Regions from separate parts of the Homo sapiens genome. Here region 2 is linked to region 1. A link means that fine-mapping ties the variant in region 1 to the expression of a gene that starts in the linked region. Tissue or cell type: whole blood. Region 1 holds a variant in brackets; the other region holds the start of a gene. All regions are shown on one strand. Distances are from middle to middle.

Region 1 (8,109 bases):
TTACCTTTTAAGCATTTTGTAGGGTGGGTGGAGATCTGTGCAGGGGGAAGCATATTACAGAAGCGAGAAACAAAGACAGTTATTTAATTAATTGAGAAATGCATTACAGCATTTCTTACTTTTCAAGGAAAAACATGTTTTACAACTTGAGTTTATCTGTCTAGTGACCTTGCAGCTGCACAGCTAGAGAAACAGGGTCTTCACAATGTCTGGGAAAGGAGGAGAGATAAGGCTCACTAGCCACAGAAAAACAGGCAGTTAATTTTTAAAGGACTCCAACTCTTTCTCTTTCTCAGGGGGAATTGGGTTTTCTTACATACAACTGAGTTTCTCCTTACACATTCTTTAATTTCTTTTAATTCCTATTCCAATACCATAAAAGCAATTAAGGACAGGTCTAGAGTTAGTTAAAGACAGGTGGAGGTGGTGATAGAGAGGACAGGGTTACATTGGTAAGGGTGACAGTTAGAAGGGGAAGTCCTTTTAGTGAAATAGATGAGAGGTTTTAGATCTGCACAAACCTTTTTCATGGAAGTCCAACTTTGCTCCTGGGTAGTTTAAAGGACGTAGTCCCATGTACCACAAGGTTGCCAGGCTATAGGAGCAGAAAATCAGCGTCTTGGCTGCAGGTGATCACAACGATGAGTGCTAGGGGTAACTGTGTCAATTAGAGGGCCGAGGCATAAATAATTGTGTGAAAAGGCTAGCTGTCATTGATCTTTTACATTTCCACAAGGTATGACAGAGCAAGCATAAAAGGCAATGGTCTGAGGTGACTCAGACTTAGTTACATTAATAACAAAGGAGCTAGTAACAGAATAAGGAAAGGAAAAGAAGCAATATAGAAGGTATATGAAAATTAAGCTTTCTTTAACTTTAACTTAGTAAGGCTTAATCCTAGTACAGTAACCCATGATTCTGACGAGGAAGATGTTTTCTTGACTTGAGTATGGTGGGTCCATCCTTTCTCAGCTGTGAGGATGGCAGTCTCAGTGGTTAACAGCATAAAATAGGGTCCTTCTCAGGCTGGCTCGAGTTTTTTTCTTTCTGTCTTTTGATGAGGATGTGGTTTCCAGGCTGCTGCTGGTGTACTGGAAATTCTAGGGCTGGTACCCGTGCTAAAAGACTTTTAGTTCTGAGGGAAGGGAAAGTGGAAGATAAAAAGTATATAATTTTTGCTGCATATTCTGGGGCTTGAGGTCCCATGGTGATGCCTCCCACTCCATTCCTGCTCAGCACCACTCACAGGATGCTGCAGCCCTGCCCCCTCTTAAGGTCTTGGCCTTCTAGTGGCCTTCATCTCCCCTGCACATTGTGGCCTTGGGGATGAGGAGCTTGTGACTTACCCAGCTGCCCTCGGACCTTAAGAAAGCTAAACACCATTTTATATTTGACAATGCTTTTTGTATGATTTTGTACCAGGTAAGTTAAATTTTACCTTTATATTAATGTGCTATTAATGTTAAACTTAATTTTAATAAAATCTTGTAGATATTATCCAATTTTAATGTCTGACTATAAGGTAAGATTTTTATAGACTCTTTTTAACATGTTAAATTTTTTGTTAAAGAGCAGGTTAGTGCTTTAAGAATAAACTATTGTGGTTTTATTTTAATGTTCAGTTCACAGCAAAACTGGATGATAAACCCTTTACCTTTAGCCAAAATGTTTACACACAGAATTTCCTTTACAATTAACATGTTAAAACTTGCTTAAACCTTTAAAACAAAAATTTTTAAACCTTTTAATGTAGGTAAAAATCCATATTCTTATGCCTCCTTATAATCCTTTTATTAAAAGTATATTTTATTTTTCTTACATACTTTGTACATAAACTGTTTTTTTAATAGTTTTACATTCAGGAGGCCTAATTACTTTTAAATTATACAATATTTCTTGCATAAATTCCCTTTATAACCTTTCTTACGACTTTCACAGACAATCTTCAACATGTCTTAACTTTCTGCCTTCCTTTTACACTATTTCTTTTCCTAGTTTCACCCTCTGTCTTTCTTTGATTTCTGTCTCTTACTTATTCTTTCCCTCTATTTCTCTCTCTCATTTGCACTCTCTTTTTTTCTCTCTCTCTCCGTCATCCCTTGTTCCTTTTTCCCTCCCAAGTTCTCCTGCTCCTGCCGGCCGGCAAGGCCGGGCAATGGCATGGGTCCCGCCCCCACACACACACTGCCGTCTGTTTCATCTGCTTTTTTTTTCTTTTCCCAATTTCCCTTTTTACTTTTTTCCTTTCTTCTTACACTCAGTTTCTTGGGCTGGGTGGGATTTGTGGGGCTGCAGTCCAGACCCCGGGCCATCACTGGCCCAGAGGCTTGGCAGATGCCTGCTGCAAGTTGCAATAATTATGCCCTTTCACCTCCTCTGCTCTCCTCCTGGCGCCGTTCCCCACCCTCTTTTTCACATAGAGCTGGGCTGGGGAGAGGGACTTAACCCTTGGTGCGCCTGTCTGGTGTCACGCTTGCTGTTTTTGCTCTTTCTCTCTGACTTCCTTTCCTGGTTTCTTTTTCCTCCCTGCTGGACTTCGCCTCTGCCAGCCACCTATGCTGCTGTTTTCCCCCCTCTCCTTCCCCTTCCCCTAGGGGAGCAACTGGTGGGAGTGGAGCTTAGCCTTTTTCTTTTCCTGAGAAGAGAGGAAAGGGGAGTTTTGAATATATATTTACTACCGGAGGTTTGTGTGAGATTCAACCCCCACAATGGGGATTTCTCACCTCTTTGAGGTTCAATCCCCCAATGGGGATTTCTCACCTCTTTTTGAGGTTCAACCCCTACAATGGGGATTTCTTACCTCTTTTTAAGGTTTAACCCCCCCAATGGGGATTTCTCACCTCTTTTTAACCACCCCAAGGAAATACTTTACCGGCTCTCCCAGTGTTTTTTTTTCGTCGATTTGGGCACAGAGTTTCCTGGTTCACGTGGATGTGAGGATCCTTTACTCCAGATCGCCAGCCAGTTTTTGTTTTTTTTTTCCTGCGTTGCTGAGAGTCTGGGTTTATTCATCACACCAGGTGGATCTTAATTCCATATCCCTGAGGCCACTGCAATGAGGCAGAGGAGTGTGCTCCCTCATGAGAAAGGACTGGAGACCGCCCCCAGAAGAGAAC[G/A]TATCCATGTACGGATTTCCACCAAAATTGTTAGAAATGCTTGTTTCCCAGTGCCATAAAGAAATTTACTTGAACATAAATTTAATTTCCTCAGCAAGGGCATTTTTACTTTCTGCAGAAAGGGTACACTCGCCAGCTGTTCTGCCATGAGAGTACACTGAACAAGGGAGACAGGGTCATTTATAACCTGACATGTCCACCCTACTGCTATGTCCAGTCTCCATTGGCTGGAATGGAACCTCACATTCTGTATTAGTCCTGATTGGCTAGCAACTTAGAACTTTTTAAAAGAGGCAAAGGCAGAGGAGAACAAAGGAAGGAGGAAGTAATTTATGGAATGCTGAGAAAGGTAAAAACACCTTCAAATAAGGAAAAGGAACAGGCTATCCTAATGCTTGCTTGGACCAGTATAAGCATGCCAGGGCAAATATTTAGGCTAAATTGTGGAAGCTAAGAACATAAAGTACATTGATTTCTTTATTACAGCTCACAGATATTTAAGAATGTTAGCCCAGGTCTTTGAATAAATTTTGCTTCTAAGAGAAGTTACTATTTCTTCCTAATTAGATGGGGAGGAAAGTCTTTGAAGAGGAACCTCTACTTTACTTTTCACAATCATGAAATGAAATTAGAAACCAATAGCAGAAGGGAAACTGGGAAATTCACAAATATGCGGAAATAAATAATATGCTGTTAAACAACAAATGGATTGAAGAAGATATCACCAGGGAAACTAGAAAATACTTAGAGATGCATTAAAATGAAGACACAAACTCCCAAAACCTATGAAATGCAGCAAAAACAATGCTCAGAGGAAAATCTATACCTAAAAACACCTACATTAAAAAAGAAGAAATGTGCAAAATCAATAATCGAACTTACACATTTAGAAACTAGCAAAGGAGAGGAAACTAGACCAAAGCTAGCAGAAGGAAGGAAATAATAAAGAATGGAGACAAACAAAATAGAGAATAGGAAAGCAATATAAACTATCAGCAGATCCAAAATGTGGTTCTCTGAAAGATCAACAAAGTTGACAAACTTTTAGCCAGACTAACAAAAGAGGGAATATCAAAAACTAAAATAAGAAATGAAAGAGGGGATAATACTGGTAAAAAAAAAAAAAAAAAAAAAAAAAAACCAGACACATAGACCAATGGAAAAGAATAGAGAGCCCAGAAATAAAGCTGCACACCTATGGCCATTTGATCTCTTACAAACTTGACAAAAATAAGCAATGGGGAAAGGACTCCCTATTCAGTAAATGGTGCTGAGATAGCTAACTAGCTATATGCAGAAGAATGAAACTGGGCCCCTACATATCATATACAAAAATTATCTGAAGATGGGTTATCATATACAAACATTTTATCATATACAAAAATTAACTGAAGATGGGTTAAAGATTTAAATGTAAGATATCAAACTATAAGAACCCTAGAAAATCTAGGAAACACCATTCTGGACATCAGCCTCAAGAAAGAGTTTGTGAGTAAGTCCTCAAAAGCAATTGCAACAAAAACAAAAATTGACAATTGGGACCCAAGTAAACTAAAGCACTTTTGCATAGCAAAAGAAGCTATAAACAGAGTAAATAGACAACCCACAGAATGGGAGAAAATATTCACAAACTATGCATCCAACAAAGGCCTACTATCCAGAATCTATAAGGAAACAATTCAAGAAATAAAAAACAAGTAACTCCATTAAAAAGCAGGCAAAAAACACATGAACAGACACTTTTCAAAAGGAGACATACAAGTGGCCAACAAACATTTGAAAAAATGTTCAATATCACTAATCATCAGAGAAATGCAAATCAAAACCACAATGAGATACCATCTCACACCCATCAGAATAGCTATTATTAATAAATCAAAAAACAACAGATGCTGGTGAGGCTGCAGAAGAAAGGACACTTACACACTGTTGGTGGAAATGTCAATTAGTTCAGCCACTTTGGAGAGCAATTTGGAGAATTCTCAAAGAACTTAAAACAGAATTATCATTTGACCCAGCAATCCCATTACTGGCATACATCCAAAAGAAAATAAACTGTTCTACCAAAAAGACACATTCACTCATATATTCATCACAGCAATATTCACTGTAGTGAAGACATGGAATCAACCTAGGTGCCTATCAATGGTGGACTGGATAAAGAAAATGTGGCACACATACACCGTGGCATACCGTGCAGACATAAAAAGAATGAAATCATGTCCTTTGCAGCAACAAGGATGCAGCTGGAGGCCATTATCCTAAGTTAATTAACATAGGAACAGAACACCAAATACTGCATGTACTCACTTATAGTGGTAGCTAAACATTGGGTACTCATGGACATAAAGATGGCAATAATAGGCACTAGGGACTGATGGGGGGAGGTAGGGAAGGGGGCAAGGGTTGAAAAACTAACTGTTGGGTACTATGTTCACTAGTATCCCATCCGGATGACAGGACCATTCAGATCTCAAACCTCAACATCATGCAATATACTCATGTAACAAACCTGCACATGTATCCCCTGAATCAAAAATAAAAGCTGAAATTATTTTTTTAGAAAAAGAAGAGGGGATGTTACCACTGATTTGACAGAAATAAAAAGGATTATAAGAAAATACTATGAACATTGTATTTCAACAAATTAGATGCCCTAATACATTGAAAAACAATTCCTACAAACACACAAACTACCAAAACTGACTCAAGAATAAATAGAAAATCTGCAAAGACTTATAACAAGTATGATATTTGACAATAGTGCCAAACCATTCAAAGTGAAACCACTTCCTCTGGGGCAATACCTGTAGTTAGTTGTCTCGCGCCGATGATTAACAACATGGACACACACGTGGAGTGGGTTAAGGAGCAGAAAGTTTAACAGACAAAAAGGAAGAGAGATAGAATAAGCTTCCTCATGCTGAGAAAGCGGGTCACCTGAGAGAGGGTTTCTGGGTTAGGTGCAGAACGTGATCAATTTTGTACAAAGGCTTGAGGAGGCGGTGATTGATTTACATAGAGCCCAGGGGATTGGTTTGACCAGGTGCTCCATTTACACAGTCCATGAAAAGACTGGCCCTCCAACCCTAATCTTTTATTATGCAATTATGGCTTCTATCTGACTGTCACCATGACACCTGCACATGTGACTTTACCTGGCTAGTGCCATGACACCCGCACACGTGGCCACAAAGAAAAGGGAGCGAGAATCGCCATATTGAATGTACCTGGCTTCCAGGTACAGCTGATGGCATTTACATATGAAAGCTAGCTTGCATAGCTATGCTTGCAGCTTGAAGTTTCAGGCTGCTTTCTGTTAGAAAAGAAATGGTTTGGGGGCTGCTTTTTATTAATGGAAAATTCCACCAAGAACTCTTTACCCTTTCTAATTGCCTAAAATAATTTTTAATAACTGCTGTATTAAAAGGATATGTGTACCGAAACTAAGCCAAAACACAACTTTAATAGGCTTAAGATCTCTGTGTGTTTGCTCCTAGACAAAACAAATGGGGTACAGAACAAACAAAAACATGTTGATAGGAGAGAGAATGGATCATGGTCTTTCATAGAGCATTCTGTGCTTCTGGACTCAGAAAAGCTGTCAGACACCTGTTTATGGTTTATTACAGCTACAGAAAACACATTAAAAACAGCAAAGGAAAAAGGTATCACTTGAAGAGAGCAGATATTCACATTTCAAATTAAATACTTCAGGAAATCCAGTTTAAATAATTGAAAGCAAAACTCAAATGCCAAAAGTGGGTAAATATTTAGTCATATTTTCTTGTAAGTTTCTTTAGATTAATTGTTGATATTATTGTTGCTGCTGTTGAATATCCATTGTCTTCCTATCCTTAACACTACAGGAACACAAATACGTCATTGTAGATATATTAGCGTAAGCCATTCCCTACTCTTCTAACCAATTCTGAACTCTTAACCGTGTGATTTCAAATAAAAAATTTTCCCACGATATGCTCTGTAGTAAAGATATAAATAGGTTTGTAACAATGACATTTGGGGAAATTTATCAGGGCTTTACATGTATTTACATAATAGAAACAGGCAGAGAATGCTTAAGGACACTAATCCCATTTGTGAAGACTCTACCCTCATGACCTAATAACCTACCAAAGGCCCCACTTTCTAATACAATCACATTAGGGGTTAGGATTTCAACGTATGAATTTGGCGGGGACACAAACATTGAGTCTATAGCACTGTCATATACTAGTGTTCTGTAGCAGATTAGCAAATTTATGAACACACAGTTTCACAATTTCTAGAGGAATATGCTTCCTCATTGTATAATTTTTCATGTTCATTAACAGAACCAGATGTATTTAGCTTCACTATATCATATAAAAATAAAACACCAGGCCGGGCACGGTGGCTCATGCCTGTAATCCCAACACTTTGGGAGGCCAAGGCAGGTAGATCATGAGGTCAGGAGACTGAGACCATCCTGGCTAACACAGTGAAACCCCATCTCTACTAAAAATACAAAAAATTAGCCAGGCATGGTGGCACGCACCTGTAGTCCCAGCTACTCGGGAGGCTGAGGCAGGAGAATCGCATAAAACCGGGAGGTGGAGGTTGCAGTGAGCCGAGATCGCGCCACTGCACTCCAGCCTGGGCGACAGAGGGAGACTCCATCTAAATAAAATAAAATAAAAGAAAATAAAACACCAAAAGCATATAAACTTAAAACTTAGGTTCAGTAATTAGTGTTTAAGTGGTTTATCTTACTTAGAAAAGATCTAGGTTCTTATTTTAGGCAAACATAACATTAAACAAAGCTAGCCATCATTTGAAGTTATTTCCCTATTAACTATTTTTACAGGATGTCCATGTTTGACTGGCATCACAAAAGCAAAAACCTAAAAAGTTAAATGCATGAGTTTGTTGTTTTACTGCTGTGCTTGACACACATGACGTAATGGAATCGGACAATTCAGTTTTACCTGCATCTTTACTTGTACATTTGTTG
Region 2 (8,109 bases), 110 kb after region 1:
TGTCAAGCCCAATTAAGCCACCTCCTGAGGTCAAGTCCATCAATCTGCAGTGTGATCCAGATCTTAACTCAGAAATTCTCAGGCACAGAAGAAATGGCTTCCGATAAAATAGCAAAATTTGACCCCTCCCCTCCAAAAAGGGAGCATAAAAATAGTACTTGAGTGCCCTCTTCTGGACTGTCTGGGCAAGGGCCTTCCCAAAGAGATCTCTGAGTCTGATTACTCAATAATGGAACCACGAAAGCAGATTGATGGGCTCCCCACTAAAAAATTCAGGGCCAAGTACCAGGCCATGGGGATTTGATAAGTGGTCCCGCTAGAGTCTGCACAGTGATGGCCTTCCACCTCTCCTGGTGGATTTGGAGACAAATCAGAGATCCTGAGCAACTTTTGCTCTGACACTCAGCTTTCAAATATAAACAAGATTAGGGGTTACAAACAAAAATCCAAAGATTTTAGGGGTTATAAACAAGATCCTTCTGTACTCAGGGGACCCAGAGGCCCTATGCCAAGGTTAGAGTTCAACTGAACAGTGGAGAGGAATTGCACTTCTTAGGCCTTTTAGATACCAGTACACAGGTGACTGTGATCCCCACAAACCCTTGCATCAAGATGAGGAGAAAACAGATCGTGTTCTCTGACTTTGGGCTCCTACTAACCTCCGTTGTCATGGCCCCCACTACTGAATGAAATATTGGCAGTGATGTGTTTTCCATGTGCAGCCCCACTTGCCTTTGCCTCCAAGCCCTGACAGGAATTGCAATAGTTATGGCCATCTTAGTGAGAAATATAGAAGACCATGGACCCATCTGATGACCAACACCTAGTACTGTTGTTTCCCAAAAAACAATGTCAGCTGCCTAGGGGAGAAAAAGAATAATTGCCATCATTGCTGAGCTTAAGGAAGCCAAAATGTTTCATGAGACTGTTTCTCCATTCAATAGCCCCATCTGGCCTGTGCACAAGACCTTGGTTTCTTGGAGACTTACCACTGATTTTAGGCAGCTCAATGCGTAATACCACCTTTGGCACCAGCAGTACCTGACATTGTGACTATTACAGAGGCCCAAAACAGAGAGAACTTGGTATGCAGCAATTGATATTGCAAAGGCATATCAAATTGTAGTCCCCAGTGTTGGAGATGGGGCCTGGTGAGAGGCGATTAGATCATAGGGGCAGATTTCCCCTCTAGTTTTGTTCTAATGATAGTGAGTAATCATGACATCTGGCTGTTTAAAAGTGTAGCATCGGCTGGGCATGCCCTCAGCCTCCCAAGTGTCTGGGATTACAGGCACTTGCCACCATGCCCCGCTAATTTTTGTATTTTTAGTAGAGATGGGGTTTTACCATGTTGGCCAGGTTGGTCTTGAACTCCTGACCTCGTGATCTGCCCACCTTGGCCTCCCAAAGTGCTGGGATTACAGGCATGAGCCACTGTGCCCAGCCTAGTCTCTAGCTTTTAACTGGATCTCAGCTCTGGGCAGAGCCCACGCTGAATCCTGGATCTCCAAAAGATAGAATTATCATGATTCTAGACCATGTGATGCATTTGCACTGCACTTTGTTACAAAGACTTTCCTCTAAGTGTCTAAAGTATACCTTTTCTTATCTTAAACACCCGAAGAGTAGCCTCTGTTGTAATAACTTAGTCCAAAAATCAGGTAACACAGTACAAAAGCAAGCAGTTTAAGATCTGAGAGGAACTTGTCTGTTTAGACTCTTGGGGTTCCATAAGGAAAAACAGATGTTTCTCCTCAAAAAGGACTCTAGTGCCTTCTCTGTTTTATTTAAGGAATTACAGGCTGTTAGAAACTATTTTGGGTCCCTCATGCAGCAGAGGGGAACAAGAGAAAGGAGAGATAGGCAGAAGTAAATGGAGAAAACAGAATTCATTTGACTGACTGAGAAGGAAAAAACCTTTTTCTCAAAAAACAAGGTACTAGGAGAGAAAAAAAAAACAGGCCAGGCACGGTGGCTTACGCCTGTAATCCCAGCATTTTGGGAGGCTGAGGAAGGCAGATTACCTGAGGTTGTCGGGAGTTTGAGACCAGCCTGACCAACATGGAGAAATCCCATCTCTACTAAAAATACAAAATTAACTGGGTGTGGTGTCGTATGCCTGTAATCCCAGCTATTTGGGAGGCCGAGGCAGGAGAATTGCTTGAACCCGGGAGGTAGAGGTTGCAGTGAGCCAAGATCGCACCATTGCACTCCAGCCTGGGCAACAAGAGTGAAACTCCTTCTCAAACAAACAAAACAAAACAAAAAACCATAAAGGCCTTTTAAATATACACACACACACACACATCGTGGATATTAGCTTTTAATTAAACTGACTTTTAGCCACTAAGCTCTTAAAAAATTCTTCTAAATCTCACTACCCTATTTTAGCTGGAACAAATTGCTGATATTTCAAAAATAACACAAATATCAAACCAGAAAGAACTTGATTTAGGAACCAAACCCAGGCTGTTGTGGTGGAAAAAAGGGCAAAACCTTAGCTACAGAACTGCAGTGTGGAGCACAGTTTGGCTTGGCTAGCAAAAGGTGGCCTTGTTATGTAAATAAAGCCCCTCAGGTAGTCAAAATCTTTCTTTTTTCCTGTTGATGGCTGTTTATCCTTTTCCCTTTTCCCCCCCAGCTGCAGGAATTTACCCAATGCAGAGGCGTTGTTCCTCACCATTTGTAACTTTCCTTCACATTTGATATAGTTGGGTAGAGTTAGTCAAATCCAATGGGAAAAAGACCAAAACAACAAAACAAACAAATAAATGAAAAAACAGTTTGGCAAAACAAACAAATGATCATACTATGTATACAATTCCTGAGCACTCTAATGGTAAGGAGAAATTAAGAGCTGCTGGTTGTTAATCTTAACTTTAGGTCATTAAGGAGAATTTTCAAGATAAAACCCCAATTCAGCTACTTACCTAGGAATGGAGTCCAGGCTCAACACTGCTCTCTACCAGCCTATAAGCAGGAAAAAAACTCCAACTCGCCTTCCCTGTTGGAATTGAGCTGAAACTCCAGAAAGGAGTTGCCTGCCCTCCATCATCATGGAAGCAGGAAAACTCACCTTCCTTGTTGAAAGTGAGTAAAACTCCAGAAAAGGAGTTGTACAGCAAAAAAAAACCTTAGATATCGACCAAATTTGGGGAGATCAGGGTGAGGGAAGAGACGGACCCTCTCATATTGTTTTATATTGTTTTATACTCAGTACCTGTTTTAAGAAAAAAACAAGGAAGTGAAACCAAGGGCAGGCAGCCAGGCACCAGACCCAAAACCAGAACTGAAACCAGGCCTGGGCCTGCCTGGCCTAAACCTAGTAGTTAAAAATCAACTCATGACTTAGCAACCGATGTTATCCATAGATTCCAGACATTGTATGGAAGAACGCTGTGAAACTCCCTGCTCTGTTCTGTTTCACTCTGACTACCGGTGCATGAAGCCCCTGTCACATACCCCCTAGATTGCTCAATCAATCACGACCCTTTCATGTGAAATCTTTAGTGTTATGAGCCCTTAAAAAGGACAGAAACTGTGCACTCGAGGAGCTCGGATTTTAAGACAGTAGCTTGCCGATGCTCCCAGCTGAATAAAGCCCTTCCTTCTACAACTCAGTGTCTGAAAGATTTTGTCTGCAGCTCGTCCTGCTACAAGGGATTGTCTGGAGGGGGGAAGTTCCCAGGCCTCAGCAAATCTGCCTATTGATTTGAGCAATAAAGATATCTCAAGCTGGTACCAAGCAGTAATAGAAGATTTGTCAAAGGTCAGGGGCACCTCCACTCAGAATCCCTTGGTGGTTACCAATTTGTAAACCAAAAAGTATCTGAGCTAGGTCTCAATTAACTTGGAAATTTTATTTTACCAAGGTTAAGAACATGCATCTGGAAGGCAGGTCTATGCCTTTTTCCAAAGAAGATTTTGTGGACTTCAGTATTTAAAGGCAAAAGGGCAGATATTGGGGGAAAAGGAAAAAAAATTAAAGGTGTGGGTAGATAACAGACAAATGGTTGCATTATTTTGAGTGTTTGATAAACCTTTCACTGAATACACAGTTTACATGTGAGAGAAGGGTAGAGGAATAGTTACTTATGCCTTTGTCAGCTCAGTGAATCTGCATTTTTACATTAGGAAAGCAATCAGATATGCATCTGTCTCAGATGAACAGAAGGATGACTTTGAGTTCTGTTCTTTGTCTAGAACCTGTGAAGATAAGCTATCAATTTACATTGTCAGGGTAAAATTCAACAGAACCATTTTAAGGTAAACATCTTGGGGCTCAAAAGGAATGTCCCAGTGGACAAATTGTGAGACATGTATGTAGCTTTTTTTTTTGTTTGTAGCTATCTTATTTAAGAATAAAATGGGAGGTAGGTTTGCCTGATGCAGTTCCCAGCTTGACTTTTCCCTTTGGCTTAATGATTTTGGAGTCCTGAGATTTATTTTCCTTTTACAAGACATTACCATTCCAAAAGAATGAATATGGGAGGCATAAAGTGGTTTCTTGTCCCAAGTAAGTTCAAAATTTAGCATGGCAGGGCCAGGTGTGGTGGCTCACGCCTATAATCCCAGCACTTTGTGATGCTGAGGTGAGTGGATCACTTGAGGTCAGGAGTTCGAGACCAGCCTGGGTAACATGGTGAAACCCCCCTCCTCGTCTCTACTAAAATACAAAAATTAGAGGGGCATTGTGGTGAGTTCCTGTCATCCCAGCTACTCAGGAAGCTGAGGCAGGAGAATTGCTTGAACCTGGCAGGTGGAGGTTGCAGTGAGCTGAGATTGTACCACTGCACTCCAGCCTGCGTGACAGAATGAGATTTCATCTCAAAAAAGTAAATAAATAAATAATTAGCATAGCTAATTCCATTAGATTTCAAGGCCTAGGAACAATCCTCTTTAGCTCAATGTTCTGCCATCTGGTCTTGCAGTGATCCACCAGCTTCTGTGCCACCCTCATAATTCACTCTTCCTTTTTCTTGAAGGCTAATGTGTCTTTGCAGTCTAGTAGCCCTGTCAGCTCATATCCTGCCTATAGATTTCCAGAAGTCCAACAGTCTTCCTTCATTTCATCCCATATCTATCTCCTTTACTCCAAGATGCCAGTATTTCTGTTGATATAACATTCTCAAAATCCTTATCAGTCTCGTGTGTGTTATGGGAGTCCATGTCATTAGACAAGATCCTTCCTGGATAAACCCATCTCTATTCCTGCCTTCAGCTGATATGGTTGATTGGATCCATGAATCACATATATAATCTCTTTAGCAAGATTGTCCAGCCATACTGTTGGCCTTCTCTTCAGAGTATGCTTTTGCGACAATAAATTTTCTAATTTTGGCATCCTTTGGAATCACGATAGGCTGAGAACCTCCAAAATCAAGTGCTAGTTACTTTTTGCCTAATAGTTCTTTCCTCAATTTATATCTTTCACATTGAAATGGGAGAGTTCACTGACCCCCCTTGCAGGGCCTGCAACAGGGGTGTGGCTCGTCTGTTTGGCCACTGCATGCTCAAACCCCTTATGGGAGGGGGAGCACGCATTTGAGCTAGGGCAAGCACTTTTGGGCTCTGGGCCTACAGCAATATCCAGGGATGTTACAATGCTCCTTTAGCCCTGCCATCCAGGGACAGCTTAAGTGTTAAACAGCTCAGTGCCCTCTTGGTACTGGGTTCCTGTCCAGCATCCAGGAAGAATCAGGTCACACAGACAAATTGAAGGATGGTAAATGTGGCGTATTTTATTGCTGGATGGAGGTGGCTCTCTGCAGGATGGATGGGGAGCTGGAAAGGGAATGGAGTGGGAAGATAATCTTCCCCTGGAGTTCAGTCGTCCCTTGGCTGATCTCCTCTCCTACCGTCCCCAGCCTAACTCCTCTTGATGTTCAGAAGCTCCTTCTCTTCTCTCCTTCTCTGCCACACCACTCTTCTGTTCCTCTGCTCTTCTGCTTGTCTGCTCATCTGCTTGTGGATCCTGGGGTTTGGAGTTTATACAGGTACAGGATACAGGGGCGTGGCAGGCCAAAAGGCAGCATTTGGGCACAAAAACAGGAACGCTTGTTCCCATTTAGGGCCACGGGTTTCCAGACTTGAGGGTGGGGCCTTTGCTGGGAAACCACCCTCTTCTACCCAGTATTTCCCTGTCTCCTGTCTGTATCAATATTACATTTTACTATAAGCAGCAAGGAGAAACCAGGTTATGAAGATAAGCTATCAATTTACATTGTCAGGGTAAAATTCAACAGAACCATTTTAGGGTAAAGATCTTGGGGTTCACAAAGAAAAATCTTAAGGATTTTGCCTGTAAATTTCTGCCAAATATCCAAGTTCATCACTTTCAAGTTCTGCTTTCCATGTGACTGAAGAACATAGTTCAGCCAAGTTTTCTGTCACTGTATAACAAGCATTGCCTTTCCTCCCATTTTCAGTAACATTTTCTTCATTTCTTTCCAAGACCTCTATACAATCAACTTTAATATTCCTATTTCTAACAACAGTCTCTTCAGGGCAATTTAGGTTTTTTTCTATCACGCTTCTCAAAAATTTTTCTAGTCTCTATCCATGGCCTAATTCCAAAGCCAATTCCACATTTTAGGTCTTTAGTACAGCAACATCCCACTTCTAGTTTCAAAATCTGTATTAGTCAGGGTTCTTTCAGAAAAAAAAAAAAAAAAAAACCAACAGGGTATATATGTATTTGATTTGTTTCAAGGAATTGCCTTAGATGATTGTGGGGTCCAGCTAGGTAAGTCCAAAATCTGTAGGGAACTTGGGAAGCCTAGAAACTCTCAGGTGGAAACTGAGGCTGCAGTCAGCAGGCAGAATTTCTTCTTCCTCTGGGCATATCAGTTTTGCTCTTAAGGCATTTCAACTGATTGGATGAGGCCCACCAAGATTATCCAAGACAGTCTCCTTTACTTAAAGCAACTGATTATAGATGTTAACCACATCTATATAATACCCTCACAGCAGCATCTAGATTAGTGTTTGAATAACTGGGTACCATCACCTAGCCAAGTTAACAAATTAAACTAACCATATCTATTCAACTAATTAAATATAGTAATACAACCAAATAAATGACATTTTTTTCCATGCAGTATTTCAAAATACTTAAGAGTAGGCAACATATTGGCCCAAGGTCAGTGGCTCTGAGGGTAGCTGGACCACATCAGTCAGAACTGCTATAAAATAAAATAAAATAAAATAAAATAAAAAATAAAAAAACCTTCTGGCTAACTGCACTTGCAAAAAATCAAGAGAAATCCAAGATACACAGCACCACTACAGTCTTCTAGCTTCAAATAGTTGTAATATGATTCACTCCTAGCAATAGAGTAAAAAGGTAAAGCTCAAGTTACAAGTTAATTGATATTTTCCATAGCATATACCATAAAGAAAGGTGAAAAATTCAGACCCTAATGCTGATTCTGACCAACTCTCATTTTCACCGGTTATTTTGCAGTCCCTCACTATTCAGCTGTGAAATTCATCTAAGGACATAAACTTAGTGTGTAATTTCTCCTCCGAAGGCAAAGTGGAAAGATATCAGAACTACACATTGACAGATTTAGTAATAGACTTAGTAATGTTGTTAATAGTCTTCTATATCCCTGACTGTCTGTAATAGAAATACAACTACTCGTTCTCTTTCTTCCTTTCCAGAGAAATGAGATCTGTGAAGCACAAAATAAAGACTAGAGGCTGTATTACATGAAGTTTGTCATGTAACAAGTCATTGCCTAATTAACATGGAGTAGTACAATAAAAGAGTATCACTCTCAGCATGAAAGCCACCTCCCTCCTTCTGTAAACCTTGCCTTGTATGATGAGGACAACATAAATCACACAGTGCAGGTGTGTTTAAAGTCAGCATCAGAACAAATGTTAAATTGGATAAAATATCAATATCAAAAATGATTTTTTCTTACTTACTAGACCCTGATGTCATCTGTGGAATTGCTGTATATACATGGAATATCACTATCTTTACAGTAGTTATACATTTTCAGATCTTCATATTATCTGGTTACAGATCTTCATATTATCTGGTTACCTTTAGCACTGAACATGCAACTCCTTATTCCAAGTGACAACTACACTCTTTTA

Evidence for each region. PIP is the estimated chance that this variant, and not a neighbour inherited with it, causes the effect.
Region 2: it holds the start of RHOXF1-AS1, and the variant in region 1 is fine-mapped to the expression of RHOXF1-AS1 in whole blood (TOPMed, PIP above 0.99).

What each region holds. Positions count from the first base shown.
Region 1 is chrX:120,138,664-120,146,772 of GRCh38, reverse strand. RHOXF1-AS1 (RHOXF1 antisense RNA 1) reads right to left here. Exons shown (of 5, transcript NR_131238.1): 3 at 7,654-7,775; 4 at 2,873-3,050; 5 at 1-1,135. Among named protein-coding and RNA genes, the nearest start is that of RHOXF2, 16 kb to the left of the region's middle. The variant G/A (reference allele first, on the strand shown) is at 3,117.
Region 2 is chrX:120,031,354-120,039,462 of GRCh38, reverse strand. It overlaps RHOXF1-AS1 (RHOXF1 antisense RNA 1), which reads right to left and starts at 3,227. Exons shown (of 5, transcript NR_131238.1): 1 at 2,931-3,227.